Regions from separate parts of the Homo sapiens genome. Here region 2 is linked to region 1. A link means that fine-mapping ties the variant in region 1 to the expression of a gene that starts in the linked region. Tissue or cell type: whole blood. Region 1 holds a variant in brackets; the other region holds the start of a gene. All regions are shown on one strand. Distances are between the middles of the regions. Region 1 has its middle 14 kb from the start of ITGA9. Region 2 holds the start of APRG1 (APRG1 tumor suppressor candidate).

Region 1 (8,340 bases):
ACTCCTTCCTCCAAAAGGTGAAGACTAATTCCCCTTCCCTCAAACAGGAGCTGATCTTAGTGCCTTCCTTCTAACAAATAGGATATTGTGGGACTGCTGTGATAGGCCACGAAAAGCATTGTCCCTTCCACCTTACTGTCTCGGGTTGCTCAATCCCGGGAAAGCCACACCAGCCGCCATGTCGTGAGGACACTCAAGCAGCCTGTGGAGAGGCCCATGTGGAGAGGAAGTAAAGCCTCCTGCTAACCTCAAGCACCAATTTGCCAGCCATGTCAGGAGCCGCCTCAGAGGCGGACCCTACAGGTCCAGTCAAACCTTCAGCCTCAGCCAATAGCTTAACTGCCATTTATGAGAGACCCTGAGCCAGAAGCACCCAGATAAGCCACTTCGGGATTCCTGACTAACAAAAACTGTAGTATAATTGATATTGTTTTAAGCCGTTATGCTTTGAGGTAATTTGTTACATAGCAATAGAAAACCAGTACAAATTTGGGGGTAATTTATGACCCAGTAATAGATAACAAACACATACCTCTTCGCCTCAGTGGTGAGCTGATGGGGATGGTAGTTAGAGCCACATAACAGATCCGCATTGCCACAGCTGCCTTTCTGAGTCAGGACACAAGGAAATCCTGCCTAGTGTGGGATGGCTCTGTGGTGGAACAATTGACCTAGCTATGGTCCGAGACTTAAGACCTGAGTCCAAATCTTGATCTGCCACTTACCAGCTGCCAGACACAGGGTTAGTTGCTACACCTTATAGGGACTCCATATCTCATCTGATAATAGTATCCACCTAGTAAGGAGGACAGATTAAATGGAAATAAGTGCACCAAAGTAACAACCAGATGGGGGGTCAGTTGAACCCAGTGGAAGTTATTCAGTCATGCGTCACATAGTGATGGGAATACATTCTGAGAATGTATTGTTAGGGCCGGGCGCGGTGGCTCAGGCCTGTAATCTCAGCACTTTGAGAGGCTGAGGCACCCTGAGGTCAGGAGTTCGAGACCAGCCTGGCCAATATGGCAAAACCCTGTCTCCACTAAAAATACAAAAATTCACCGGGCATGGTGGCATGCACCTGTAATACCAGCTGCTCAGGAGGCTGAGGCAGGAGAATCACCTGAACCTGGGAGGCAGAGGTTGCCGTGAGCTGAGATCATGCCACTGCACTTCAGCCTGGGCGACAAGTGAGACTCCGTCAATGTGTTGTTAGGCAATATTGTTGTGCAAACCTCTTGGAACATACTTACACAAACCTAGATGGTATAGACTACTATATGCCCAGGCTACACGGTGTAGCCTATTGCTCCTAAGCTACAAACCTGCATAGCACATTACTGTACTGAATACTGTAGGCAATTGTAACACAAAGGTAAGGTAAGCAATTGTAACACAAAGATTTAGATACACAAAGATACTTTTGTATCTAAACAAAGAAAACGTACAGTAAAATATATACTATAAAAGATTAAAAATGGTACACCAGTGTGGGGCACTTACCATGAATGGAGCTTGTAGGCCTGGAAGATTGCTCTGGGTGAGTCAGTGAGTAAGTGAATGTGAAGGCCTAGGACATTCGTGTACACTAATGTAGACTTTATAAACACGGAAAACTTAGGCTACACTAAATTTTTTTTCTTTAATTTTCTTTCTTCAGCAATAAACTAAGCTTACTATAACTTTTTTATTTTGCAAATGTTTAAATTTTTCTAACTTTTTGGCTCTTCTATAATAACAGCTTAAAACACAAACATGTTATATAGCTGTAGAAATATTTTCTTTCTTTATAGCCTTATTCTGCACGTTTTTTTCTATTAAAATTTATTTTTACTTTTTAAACATTTTGTTAAAAGTGAAGACATAAACACACACATTAGCATAGGCCGACACAGGCTCAGGGCCATCAATATCAGTCTTCCACCTCCACATCTTGTCCCACTGATAGTCTTCAGAGCAGTAACGCATATGGAGCTGTCATCTCTGATGATAACAATGTCTTCTTCTGGAACACCTCCTAGAGGACCTGCCTGAGGCTGTTCTACAGTCAACTTTTTTTAATAAGTAGAAGTACACTCTAAAATATGAATAAAAATATAGTATAGTAAACACATAAACCAATAACATAGTCATTTATTATCATTATCAAGTATTATGTTCAGCACATAATTGTATATACTATGCTTTTTTATGTGGCAGCATAGTAAGTTGGATTTTTTTGTTATTTTGTAGAGACCGGGTCTCATTGTGTTGCCCAGGCTGGTCTCCAACTCCTGGCCTCAAGCAACCTACCACCTCAGCCTCCCAAAGTGCTGGGATTACAGACAAGAGCCACCTTTCCCAGCCTCACACATGAGCATCACCACAAACATGTGAGTAACATGTTATGCTACAACATTATGACAGCTACGTCACTAGGCAATGGGAATTTTTCAGCTCCGTTATGATCTATGGGACCAGCATCTTATCATCCATCATTGACAAAAATGTTATTATGTGGTGCATGACTGCATTTTAAAAGACATTTTATTTTTACTTTTATTTTTTGAGACAGGGTATCACTCTGTTGCTCAGGCTGGAGTGCAGTGACATGATCTCGGCTCACTGCAACCTCCATTTCCAGGGCTCAAGAGAACCTCCAACCTCAGTCTCCAGAGTAATTGGGACTACAGGTGTGTGCCACCACTTCCAGCTCATTTTTTTGGTTTTTGGGTTTTTTCGTTTTTGTTTTTGTTTTTTTGCAGAGACAGGGTTTCGCCATGTTGCCCAGGCTGGTCTCAAAGTCCTAGGATCAACCAATCCACCTGCTTCAGCATCTCAAAGTGCTGGGACTACAGGCGTTAGCCACTGCACCCAGTCTAAAATGACATTTTAAACATGAATAGCTGGCACTATAGCTATGTGTCCAATCTGCTGCCCAATTCAACCTCATACCATCAGGAGTCATTAAATCGGACCCACACAGGCCTGACAGACAAGGCAATGCGGTCTTCTCTTTTGGTTCTCAGCTTATCTAAATTACATTCTAGATTGTGACATTCTAAGATTATTTACATATTCCAAATGTGCTTAAGAGACAAACTTGGAATTAACGTGGAACTGAAAGCATTTTGTGGGAAGTATCTAGATAGGCCAATTCATTTTGTTTTTCTGTCTGAGCCTGTGAGCATCCATTCCTTCCCACAATCATAACAATTCATCAGGCTCCAGCTCTTTAACATAGACCTCTCCTCAAACCAATTAACAGAGAGGAGGGAGAGTGGAGAGTCAGTGGATTCAGTGTCCTTGACTGTCCTGAGGCAGCCTCCAACAAGTCTGACTCCCTGGGTTGGGTCCCTGTTCCAACAGTCCCCACCTGCCCTCCTTTCCTTCCCCTCTTCCCCCAAACCTCCTATTCTCTAAAAGCTCTGTCCCCTACAAAGTACGTGAGCAAGAGCAGACATTACCCATACCAGAGGTGACAGAGCAGAAGGAAAGAACACAGCAGGAGCTGGGCCATCAGACCACTTGGGTTCAAATCCTAGTTCTGCTCTTGACCAGTTGTGGAACATGCGGCATTTCTCTACCTCCTTGAGGCTCTGTTTCCTCATCTTTAAAACAACCTATTGTGGTGGGTGTTTGATAGTCTTGTTGGCTGTCCGAACCACTCCTCACTTAAGTCCACCCACTCGTAAATGGGATTAGTGCCCTTATGAAAGAAGCCCAAGGGAGCTTGTTTGCCCCTTCCAACACGTGAAGACACAGCAAGAAGGCACCATTTACGAACCAGAAAGTGAGCCCTCACCAGACACTGAATCTGTCAGCACCTTGATCTTGGACTTCCCAGCCTCCAGAACTGAGAGATAAATTTCCGCTGTTTCTAAGCTACCTGGTCTGTGGCAATTTGCTGTGGCAGCCCAAAGGGATTAAGATACAGATGATGTAAAACTTGAGGCATGTTTTCAAACAACTGCAATACATCATGCATCAGCACTTATTTTTCCCTAGGAAAACAACAGTACAGTGAATTTAGTGACTAACAGGTTAGCTTCCTGAGTAACTAGGACCTAATGGCCAGGTGTCCCAGTTGGAGGCTCATCACAAAAGGTGGCAAATGACCATAGGCAACACCAAGTAGCCACTCCCTCAGTGCATTGTAGGCCGTCACAGTATTTACATGGGCAACCCCAAGGGTTCAGGGCTTTCTGTTCTGGTTTCCATCCATCTCACTATATAAGAGGGAATATATTTTTACCTCTCTCTCAAATTTGGATGCTGTTAAAATAGTATGTATTTTGCCGCTGAAGTTATTTTTTAAAAACCAGGTATGTTATCTTATTCTGTGTGTGGTATGGATATTAAGCAATTTGATATATTTTGACTATAAACATGGATACCTAAACAGAATATAAATGAGATCAGTCGTCTATGATCACCTAAGATCAAGTGAAACTCTTTGCTTACCTTGCAGTCTCCACGCACTGATTAGAAGGCAGGCAAATTTCATG[AGCTGT/T]GCAAAGAAGGAAAGAAACTTGTAGCAGATGCTGTGGATGCTCCACGCAGATGCCACCAGCATGTGATATTTCTGTGCATGTGGCCTGACTTCCAACAGCCAGCATCTAAGACTCTTTGTCGAAGGCTTCCTGATTACTGGAGCCCTCTCTGCCCACACACATGGCAGGCCAGAAATGCTAGAGAATGAACACTTCCCTGGAGCAACACTCAACCAATGACTCCCTTTGCTCCAATGAAAAAACTCTGAGCTGTATATTCTACACTGGCTCCCAGAGTTCCCCAGAGGCATTGAGCTCCAGTTGCCCACAGTGGTAACTTGCTCAATAACGCACTCTCCATTGGCTTCCTTCCTTCCCTGTCTTACTTCTCCAGTCCCTGAATGGTGATCCCTGAATGACTGTTTCTCAATTAAGCCACTTGCACTTGAATCCTTGTCTCAGGTACTGCTTCTGGAGGATGCAAACTAAGACAGCGATGTGTGAAATTCAAATATCAAAAGGTCATTGAAAAAGCAAAGAAATAAATCAACATGGACCTTTAGTAGTTGTGGACAATGCTATCCTGATTCCTCATTTCCTGGTACCTAGTCCTTTTACTTCTGACATCCCTCTCACCAGACTTTTGCCATCTTCCACCAACATGACATTTTGGACCTTGGCCATGAAGGTTTGTCATTCTCAAGTCCACTTATTAATTAGCCCAGCTTACCCAAGTTGAAGTACAAAGGAAACTCACTAATTGAGCAGCCGTTGGGAGCTGTCCCCTAGTTTCATCCAGGGCCAGATCTCCCGGCTCTGTGTGACATGCAAACTTCAGTCTCCTCAGAGGACCAGGCTTTCAGGGGACAGAGTCAGTCTACCCAAGAACCAAGAGGAAGAAGGCCCAGGCAGATGCACAGGGACAGTGGGAAGTGCAGCCTGCACAGGACACAACTTTCCCGGTGAGGGAGCCATGCCTAAGACTAACTTGCAGCTCAGGAAGTTGCTTATTTAAAAAGAAAAGAACATTTCCGAGCAAACATCTCACTGCAAACCAAGTTTGCTGTAGTTGCTGTTTAATGGTCAGCACATTCACCTCTTTCATGAAAACCCTGGTTCAAAACAGGGCGGCGAGCCAGGCGTGGTAGCTCACACTTGTAATCCCAGCACTTTGGGAGGCCAAGGCAGGTGGATCACCTGAGGTCAGGAGTTCGACACCAGCCTGGCCAACATGGTGAAACCCCGCCTCTACTAAAAATACAAAAATTAGCCAGGCGTGGTGGCATGCACCTGTAATCCCAGCTACTCGAGAGGCTGAGACAGGAGAATCGCTTGAACCCAGGAGGCAGTTGCAGTGAGCCGAGAGCCCACCACTGCACTCCAGCCTGGGCAACAAAGCAAGACCCCATCTCAAAAAATAAAATAAAATACAAAACAGGGCAGGGGCACACACCTCTATGCACTGCATGCTCCTTTAGGCGAGATCATCTGTATCCTCTTAAATATGTTTGGTTAAAAAATGTATACATATATTTAGGTATCAGATGACATGTATAAAATAATCAGAAGTCCCTCTAACTCAGCTGACTCTGAACAATGAAGCAGAAGAGTTTACTAGAAGGATACTGGGTGGTTCACAGAATGTGAGAGGGAAGCTCCAGGCCAGGCTTCCAAGAGTAAGACCCCAAAGTTGACCAGTGTGCTGGTGTGTTTGAAGCTGCCTCTGCCACCGTTAAGCACTACAGTACATAACCACTGCATGCTACAGTAGGAAACAGCACCACTTCTGTCAGGAACTTGACCTTGCAGCCCCCTCTGCCAGATAGAGGAAACGCCCTGTCCCCTCCCACCCAAGGTGATTTAACAGTCTTTGTCATGGCCTGTGCTGCAAAGGAGGCAGGAAAGTAAGTACAGCAGTCTCAGATCTGAGAGGCGGGGGTCTCTGGCCCCCATCCAAATTGAATGGCCAAAGTCTGCCTCAAGCCCCAACTCTCCTCCCCGGATGTAACCAGTATTAAGACTGTGGATGTATCCTTCCAGCCCTTTTACACACACAGTTTTAGAAAACGGTTTTTGTAAGAATGAAATTATACTATAAATATCGTTCTGCAACTTAATTTTTCTACTTAAGTCATGTACACCTTTCCATGTTCACACATATAGATCTAACTTGTTCTTTTTGACTACAAAAAAAGATTCTGCAGAATGAAGTGCCATCATTTAGCCAGTCCTCTGTTGATGATATATAAGCTGTAGCCGCTATCTTACTATAACAAACCACAGAGGGAAAGCATCCCAGGGTATGTTTGTCATTGTTGCTGTTTGCACACGCATGTTGTCATTTCTGTAGGAATGGGTTCCTAGAAATGGGCAGCTGGGTCATACAGGCCATAGGGTCTGTGGTCTTTATCCTCATTGCAATATAAGGATGTTGGATTGAACTGAACTTCTCCACTCTGGGGACATTTCTATCCCAGGAACCAAGATAATTCTAGAATCAGGATGGCCCCCGGCCCAGCCAGTGCCAGAGCAATGCTGACCCAGGGCTCTCCTAATTTTGTTTTCCAGGCATCCCCACGCACCAGGTGTGCTGCTCCATTGCAGCCTCTTCCTCTTTTCAGTCCATCCAATGCTGTGATTCCACGTGAGAAGAGACACCTGTGTGGAGCAATGGAAGGCTGGTTTGCAGTCCCAGATCTGCCAGCAGCTGGGATTGAGTCAGTCCCCTCCCTTTTCTGAACTTCAGTTTTCTTACCTTTAAAATAACAGACATGGGCTAAATTAATGGTTTTCTAACTGTGTTCTGCCAAGACCAGCATTCCACAGAGGCATCAGGAACTGCTTCAGAACTTGGGGGATGGAGGGCAAGAGAGCAGGTCCTGGTCCTCGTGAGCTCTGCTATTAACATTGCTGTGTAATGGGATTCTGTGTGAACATTCATTTGAAAAAGGCGTTTTGCTCCTAAAGGGAAATTGAAAACTATTCAGTGTGAGTGGACAGTTTATGCTCCACATCACAGAAATCCCACTCCATAGTGGTTTGAGGGGAAAAAATAAGGGGGAGGATGGTTATTGGTTCACATAATTGAAATCCAGGGGATACTGACTTCAGGCACAGCTCAATCCAGGGGGCTCAAATATTATCAGAACCCACTCTTGTTTCTTCTCATTACGTTGCTATTCACAATGTTGGCTTCATTCTCAGGCTCAGTGTGGCGCCAAAATGGCTGCCAACAGAGTCAGGCCTATATCCTCCCAGGTTCAGGTCCAGCAGAAAACGCCATGTGCCTCTGTTGTGACAGTCACAGCAAAAGACTCACCACATCTTATTGGCTTGGGCTGAGTCATGTTCCATCCCCAGGCCAACCACTGTAGCCAAGTGAATGTAATAACTTGATTGGCCTGGCTGAACTCATGCGGTCAGTGGAGCTAGGTGTGAAATAAACCTTACCCAACATACATTGACTAAATGTGGGACAGGGATGATTCTCCAGAAAATTGTATTATTATTTCCCAATGCTGAGTAGCCAAAAATCAATGCATATAAAACCATGCACATGTGTTTATTCAATGACCAATTAAGATACTGATAAGACAGGATCTGCACCATACACTGGAGATGCAATGATAAATTAATTACAGTCCCCATGCATCTTGTGATGGGCCAGGACCACTGCAGGTCAACAAGGTCATCAGCCAGGAGGAATACCAGGCCACAGAGAGGAGGACAGCAAGGATAAATGGAACCCGCCAGCACCTCTGCATCTGTCTGTCACATCCAACCCTGAGAATCTTCAGAGAATAATGGTGGCTGCTTCACTTCTACCTTCCAAACGTTGTGCAAATTATTCTCTGGACCAATTCTAACT
Region 2 (8,340 bases), 56 kb after region 1:
CCAGTCTTCAGTGCCTCCTGGGTTTATGTAAGAAGCTCAAGTCTAGCTCCCCACCTACAGGGGTCTGAAAGTTTCTATCAGACTCATCTGGTGCTCCACTCACAAACTCTTGGCCTCCCCTCTGATTCAGCCATGGCTGGGGTGGACAGTGCCATGTGGGCTTAGGTTCATTATATATGACAGTGTCAGCCTCAAGCATACAACCAGGCCCCATGAACCAGTTCCATTCCCTCCCCAACCAGCCTCAAGAGCCTGTGATGGGGCAGGATCCAGGGGTCAGGTCTGGACCAAACAGGATGATTCCTTGGGACAGCTGGGATCAGGCTTCGTCCAAGGGTTGGTTGTGAATAATAGTTACGGAGCCCTGGAGGCCAGAATTAGGGTTAACTCTGAGAGAATATAATCAAAGGTCAGGAATGAAGGGCAAGTTCGAGACTGAGCAGAGTTGAGGTAAAAGGAAAAGGCCAAGAAGGTTAGACCCAGTGGTTAAGACTGCGAAGCTGCTACGGTTGACACAGGCAGGAACAAAGTGAGCATGTGTATTCTCATTGAATACTGGCAGTAGGATTACTGGGCAGCCATTCACCTCACAGACCTAGGGTAGAGCAAAACAAGCCTGGATTATCCCAGGGTAATGCAGCAAGGTGGTCACCAACAGACTAATAGAACACAAATAGGACTAATAGAGAACCTGATGGCAATTCTGGCTTTAGGCTCAGGAAATCCTGAGTTTTCTCCAACAGACTTAGAGCCAAGGTTAAAGCAGGGGCCCCCTCCTGAGCTTTCCTTCGGGCCTGCCCCAGAGAAGCCCTGGCTGCTCCAAGTGATCATTAGCTTTGCAAACACTAGAGTTCAGCTTGACACAGCATCTCAAGGATCCCTGCAGGATGAGGGCACAGAGAGATGAAATAGACCCACTTAGAGTGGGGTGCCTCTGAGGTCAGAGGGAAAGGAAGGAAATCCTGCTCTCAAGGCAGGACAGTGTGTGAGAAAACAACAAGGGCTGGAAAGGACAGCCAGATTGGTGAAGCCCCTCCCTGCAGTCTTTGCTTGTCTTTTTTAATGAGTCTTCCCTTTGCCAACCTCCAGGCGAACGTGGGCACCTCTTTTGGCTTAGGCTCTTCTCTGTAAGGTCTTCCTGGCATTGGCAGGGGTTGGTTCTGGGCAGTTGGTGACCATAGTCATTAGCATCTTGCCTATTGTGGCCAACCACAAAAGTGCCTGGCTTTAGTTTTGTTCAACCTGCATTTTACCTGGCACTCTTGCATGTTAATAGTTAATAATTAATAATTTCAATCTTATAAGCTATTAACAAGAGGCTGGCAATAGACAATTTTAATTGAGCTCTTACTGTGTTTCAGACACCATTCTAAGCATTTTATAAGTAGTAATTCAATCTACAGCCACGCTTAGAGGTAGATGCTATTATTATTCCCATTTTATAGATGGGAAAAATGAGGCTTACAGATTAGTTCCCTTGCCTAGTGAGCAAATGGTCAAGCCAGAACTTGAACACTGACAGACTGGCTTTCTTAGTCTGTTCTGTGCTGCTATGACAGAATATCAGAGACTGAGTAATTAATAAAGAACAGAAATTTATTTCTCACAGTTCTGAAGCCTGGGGAGTCCAAGATCAAGATGCCAGCATCTGGTGTGGAACTTCTTTTTGTGTCCTCACATGGTGGAAGGCAGAAGGGCAAGAGAGAGAAAATCCACTCCCACAAGCCCTTTTTATAGTGGCATTAATCCATTTATGAGGGCGAAGCCCTTAGGATCTAAACACCTCCCCAAAGGCCTCACTACCCAACACTGTTGTGCTGGGGATTAAGTTTCCAACACACAAATTTTGGGAGACACATTCACTCCATAGCATTGGCCCCAGGGGCTGTACTCTTAGCTAGTAGCCAATGCTGCCTCTCCAGGAGATTAGGAAAAATTAAACTCAGAGGACAGAGTCTTCTTCTGGGCCTATGCTAAATTTCAAATCAAAGAGGCTCAAATCCCAAAAGAAAAACTTATCTAGAAAAGAAGGAATGCCCCAGGGTCTGTTGTTCCCCTTTTTGTGTTCATGAGTTCTCATTATGTGGCTGCTACTTGTATGTGAGAACATGTGATATTTGGTTTTCTGTTCCTGTAGTTGTTTGCTAGGGAAAATGGCCTCCAGTTCCATCCATTTTTCTGCAAAAGACATGATCTCATTCTTTTTTACAGCTGCATAGTATTCCATGGTGCATCTGTACCACATTTTCTTTACCCAATCTGTCATTGATGAGCATTTAGGTTGATTCCATGTCTTTGGTATTGTGAATAGTGCTTCAGTAAACATTCAGGTGCATATGTCTTTATGTTCCTTTGCGTATATACCTGGTAATGGGATTGCTGGGTCAAATAGTAGTTCTGTTTTTAGCTCTTTGAGGAATCACCACACTGCTTTCCACAATGGTTGAACTAATTTACACTCCCATCAACAGTGTATAAGTGTTCCCTTTGCTCCGCAACCTTGCCAGCATCTGGAGAGGATCAGAAAAAATAACTATTGAGTACTAGGCTTAGTACCTGGGTGATAAAATAATCTCTACGACAAACCCCTATGACACGAGTTTACCTATATAACAAAGCTGCACATGTACCTCTGAACCTAAAAGTTGTTTAAAAAATTTAAAAAAACAATAATAATAAAGTAGGAATTAAAACAATAGAGAGCTTTTTCCAGCTGTACTCATTCCCACTGGTGTGTCTTGATCAGTTGTGAGTTGTGTTACAAGTAATTGGTTCCTTAAAATAGCAGTATTTGTGATTAATTGACTTATAAAATAAGAGTCCATATTCTGCCCATAACTGTGTTTCTCATACTCCCTTGCATTTCCATGTGCCTTCTCATTGGAGAAAGAGGTGATATTCTCAGTCTTTTCAAAATGTTTTGTTTTTAATTACAGAGAAAGTACTGATACATTTTATCCCCTTTCTTACTCACTTTTTCATTAATTTATTCACTCAGTACATGCTTATTGAGTGCTTACTACATATTCTAAGTGTTAAGGATGCAACAGTGAGCAGGATGGATAATGTTCCTGCCCTCTTGGAGTTTTCATTCTAGTATGAGGAAAAAGACAATAAACAAATAAACACACAACATGAGGGCAGACAATACTAGATGCCATAAGAAAAAACTAAAGAAGTGTGAGGAAACAGAGATTGGGTGGTAGTGATCAGGGAAGATCAGTTATAAACACCATGGTGAATTAACTATATATCCTTCCAGTTTATATATGCATACATTTATTAAAAGTATGTATATCTGTGACAATACATACAACTTTTAAAATTTACATAAATAAAATCACATTGTATTGGAGACTTCTGCTTCTGGGAAGATAGACATACTTCTCCCTATGCCTCCCACAGAATGCAACTAGAAACACTGGACATTATATATAAAACAAATATAACACTCTAAAAGACGAAGCGAAGCCAGACCAGCTAGAGACCTTGGGACCTAAGGAATGCCATGGTGGTGAGTTCCCTGGGTTTTCTCTTTGCTTCATAGATCCCTGACTTGGAGCTGAAGAAGCCAGCTACCTGGAAATGCTGAATTCAGACCAAAAAAAAAAAATAATCTCCAAAAAAGAACTCCTCTCTCTAGCCAAGGAACCAGGACAGAGGCAGCCTAGCAAGACAGAAAGCTTTCAGACAACTGTCTACTCCAGCCAAACACCACAGAAAATACTGCAGGCCCACCCCCATTCATGCCAGCAAATGTCGAGTGGACAGCCTAGACCTCTAACATCTGCCAAGCTGTAAAGGAAGCACACTCTGTCCAGGGTGATGTCAGAAAAGGCCACGTAGGAAGCATCCCTGGTGGGAGGCAGTGAGACCTTCCCACCATATCATGTCCCCATGTCAGTGGAGACCATATGGGAAGTCTGGACTTCCACCCCTGTGAAGGGTAAAACAACTTCATCTTGGATGCTAATTAACCCCAGTTGCGGGAATTCTTCTGAGATTTCTTTCACATACTTACTAAATCCTGCCCTTAGGTCAAACAACCTTAATGTTATCCTGTACTATCATATTTGGGATTAAGATAAGATGTGTGTGTGTGTGTGTGTGTGTGTGTGTGTGTGTGTGTATATGTGTATACATATATGTAATTAGTGGAGGCCTACTGGGTATCAGAGGAGGCCTACTGGGGAACCCTAACTCTACACCTCCACCCAACAGTAATAAGGAGACCCTCCCCAACTCCAGGTGTTAATGAGGGCCAAGTGGAAAACCTAGACTTCTGCCCTCACCTGGCAGTAATGGTGTGCCCCCAACTAGGTGCCCTTCCCCGTCAAAGTGTGTCAAAAAGGGCCAGCTAAAACAGAAGATCCAGAGTTTCATAATATCCAAAAGGTTCAGGTTTCAGTTGAAAGTCACTAGACATACCAAGAACCAGGAAAATCTCTACTTGAGTGGAAATAGATAATCAGTAGATACCAACACCAAGATGACAGAGATGTTAGAAATATCTGGCAAAGATTTTTTAAAGCAGCTATCCTACCAACACTTCAATGAGCAATTACAAACATGCTTGAAACAAACAAACAATTCTCATCAAAGAAACGGAAGCTATAGAGAGCCAAGTGGGAATTTTAGAACTAAAATATACAATACCAGGAAAAAAAAAAAAAACCCTCAATGATGGGTTCAATAGCAGAATGGAGGGTTCCAAAGGAAAGAATCAGTGAACTGGAAGACAGAACAATAAATTACACAACGTGAACAACACAGAGAAAATAGGCTGAAAAAATAAATGATCAGCGCCTCAGAGACCTGTGGGACTACAAAAAAAGATCCAACATTGTGTCACTAGAATCTCAGAAGTAGGGTAGGGCTGAAAAAACACCTAAAGAAATAATGGCTGAAAATAACCCAAATCTGGCAAAAGACTAAAACCTACAGGTTAAAAAGGCTGAGCAAATTCTTAACAGGATAAACCTAAAGAAATTCATAGCAAGACATATCATTGTCACACTTTTAAAAACTCAAGACATTATCCTGAAATTTATTTTGGTTGTTCTTGTTGTTGTTTTGGTTTGTGTGTTTATTTACACAACATAGTAGTCATCTTTCACTCAGATGTGGCGTATGTTCTATCCACCCAAAACTCACACACCCAAACCCAATGCCAGGAGAGAAATGGACTCCATCTATTCTAACAGGAGATACCGCAAAGTCATATAACAAAGTATGTAGCTGTGAAATCCAAACACAGGGAGAGAGTGAAGAATTGAAAACAATAATCCAATCTACCATGATCTGCACACTGGATCATAAATATTCATTTCCTTCCTGGCTGCTGGGAAAAATATACTCATCCTCTTCCCCAAGATATCCCAAAAGACTTGTCCAATGATTGCATTGACATTATGTCCAGGATCTCATGATCAATGCCAGATCTTGATTCAACTTCTCTTGGAGACCTGTGAATTTTAAAGACAAATTATCTGTCCCACCCACTCCCAACATACAGTAGTGGAAGAGAAACAGGAACAGAGATAGGGAAACACACTGAATACTCCTGTTTAAATGGGAAAGAGTGCCTAATCTGGGTGTGGGGCAACCAAGAAGTCTTCCAGAAGCAGGGGAGTAAGCCACTGTAAAATTATAAGGAATAAAACCATATCTGCATTTTAGGCTAATCTGGAGGAAAATCTTTAAATTTTTAAATGGTGGCATTGTTTACAAAGTGTCATTAAGACAATGTTCACATGCTTGGAGTGTGAACATATCTAAAGAATATAACAACAACAACCACCACCACCTAACCAAAGAGGATCCCAAATTAAGGTGAGAGAAAATTGATGGTTGTAATAGAAACAAGTGGCTCAAGGATGGAAGGCATGCTGCGCTGCCCTTCCTGCACCCTCACCTATCACCCACGTACTCTGGCCATAGAAAGTATGCTTTAGTCATTGCTATTTCCCCTCATCTTTGACACATCAAATTGAGCAGAGCCCAGTGTTGAAAGGTGTTGTTCTAAAAGCATACCAACTCAGAATATTGACCCGTGCACTGCGACTTAGAGTGTTAGGGGATATGGCACCAGACAAACCTGCCACATGATAATCTGAAATGTATCCACTTGTTTGGCACCAAAGGCTACTTACGGAAAGACAGGTTGGTCCTGATTGTTTTTTCAAGTGCTTCTACCTACAGAAAAGTAAGAGCATTATGGAGTACTGAATGAAAGTGACTGCACATAACCAAAATGTTCAACAGCAGAAAAATGAGTTAAACAACGGTATATTCATAGGATAAAATATTATGCAATTAAAGACGGTTTCAAAGAAATTTTAATGACTCAATATAAATAGACATATAAATTTATGTACATACACACAGCCTGTTGTTCCGTCCATCCACTCACATATTAGAAAAATACTGTATGGGCTGGGCTCATGCCTGTAATCCCAATAGTTTGGGAGGCTGAGGTAAGAGGATTGCTTGAGCTAGAAGTTCAAGACCAGCCTGGGCAACAAAGACTCTGTCTCTTCAAAAAAATTTTAAAAATTAGCCAGGTGGGTGGTGCATACCTGTAGTTCCAGCTACTCAGGAGGCTGAAGTGGGAGGATCACTTGAATCCAGAAGATTGAGGCTGCAGTGGGCCATGATTGCATCATTGCACTCTAGCCTGGATGACAGTGAGACCCTTTCAAGAAAGAAAAGAAGAGAAGAGAAAAGAAAAGAAAAGCTATTACTGAATGTACCAAAGTGTAACCAAAATGCAGCTGCTTGCAGAGTCCAATTAACAAGAGTGAGGCCTGGTATAAAGAAAGTGACTTTTTATTCCAAAGCTAACTTAGGAGAACATATGCAGACTTCCTGCCTTAGGGGCACCACCTCACTTTTTGAGCAGAAAGTGAGTGCTTTTATTTATTTTTTATTTATTTATTTTGAGATGGAGTCTTGCTCTGTCACCAGGCTGGAGTGCAGTGGTGCGATCTTGGCTCACTGCAAGCTCCGCCTCCTGGGTTCACACCATTCTCCTGCCTCAGCCTCCCGAGTAGCTGGGACTACAGGCGCCCACCACCACGCCCAGCTCATTTTTTTTTTATTTTTAGTAGAGACGGGGTTTCACCATGTTAGCCAGGATGGTCTCGAACTCCTGACCTCGCGATCCTCCCACCTCAGCCTCCCAAAGTGCTGGGATTACAGGCATGAGCCACCACGCCCGGCCGAAAGTTAGTGCTTTTAAAAGGGGGCTTTGCATGAATGGCATACAGGAGAGGAAGTGAGCAGCTAGGGGTCCACATAACTTGCTTCGGGGCTTTATCTAGTGGGTAGCTGAGCTGGTGACTACTGGTGCCTTTGTGGGCAGAACTATATTGTAAAGGTGGCCAAAACGCTCCAGGTGGGACAGAGTTTTGTAGTGGACGTACTTTGGGATGTAAATTAACTGTTTTCTCTTAAGACAACCTCCTGGTTGGAGAGAGCTTCCCAGCAGAGCTTCTTAGGACAAAGTTAGATGCGCTTGCCCTGTAGGGAGTGTCTGGTGAAGGGAAGGTAAAAGGTTATAATTGCATTTCCAAAGAGCTAAGTAGGAATCGGGGAAAAGGGGGAAAGAGAAAAATTTTTTTTTAATTATTCATTTTATCTCTTAGAAAAATGGATGTACTCTGTTACAATTCCTCACTGCCAAGTTCCATTCCATTTCTATGGGATTTGGGCACTGTATTCATTCTAGCTAAGTACTTACTGCTAATGGAGACATAGTCACTGAGCATCAGAAGGGAACTAATCTACTTGGGGCTGGAAATATTCATGAGTACCTGGACTTACAGATAATATTTGTTGGAGCATTATGATGCAAGGTCTAGAAAGTTTCTGGGAAAGCCTGCCTTGCATTCCTTTTCAGAGGGTGCAACGACAGTAAAATCCACAACGTGGAAGTCTGCTTATTCTTGCACAAGGACCAAAGTCATAAGTAGCTTCTGCCACCAAAATAGTCCTGACCTGAATCAGGATGATCTAGCAACAATGTCGGATCAGACATAACTTTGATTTGTTGGTTCATGTCTTGGAGGGTGATATGGTTTGGCTCTATGTCCCAACCCAAATCTCACGTTGAATTGTAATCCTCAATGTTGGAGGAGGGGCCTGGTGGGAGGTGACTGGATCATGAAGGTGGACTTCCCCCCTTGCTGTTCTCGACAGTGAGTTTTCATGAGATCTGATTCTTTGAAAGTGTGTAGAACTTCTCCCTTCTGTCTGTCTCTTTCTCCTGCTGCCCATGTGAAGATGTGCCTACTTTGCCCTCGCCTTCTACTATGACTGTAAGTTTCCTGAGGCTTCCCC

The links. PIP is the estimated chance that this variant, and not a neighbour inherited with it, causes the effect. A credible set is the group of variants that fine-mapping cannot tell apart.
Region 2: APRG1 starts here. The variant in region 1 is the best candidate, but not a certain one, in a credible set for the expression of APRG1 in whole blood (TOPMed, PIP 0.77).

What each region holds. Positions count from the first base shown.
Region 1 is chr3:37,433,731-37,442,070 of GRCh38, reverse strand. It overlaps a transcript of APRG1 not described here. Among named protein-coding and RNA genes, the nearest start is that of ITGA9, 14 kb to the left of the region's middle. The variant AGCTGT/T (reference allele first, on the strand shown) is at 4,488.
Region 2 is chr3:37,377,396-37,385,735 of GRCh38, reverse strand. APRG1 (APRG1 tumor suppressor candidate) reads right to left here and starts at 4,659. Exons shown (of 5, transcript NR_171174.1): 1 at 2,365-4,659; 2 at 1-595.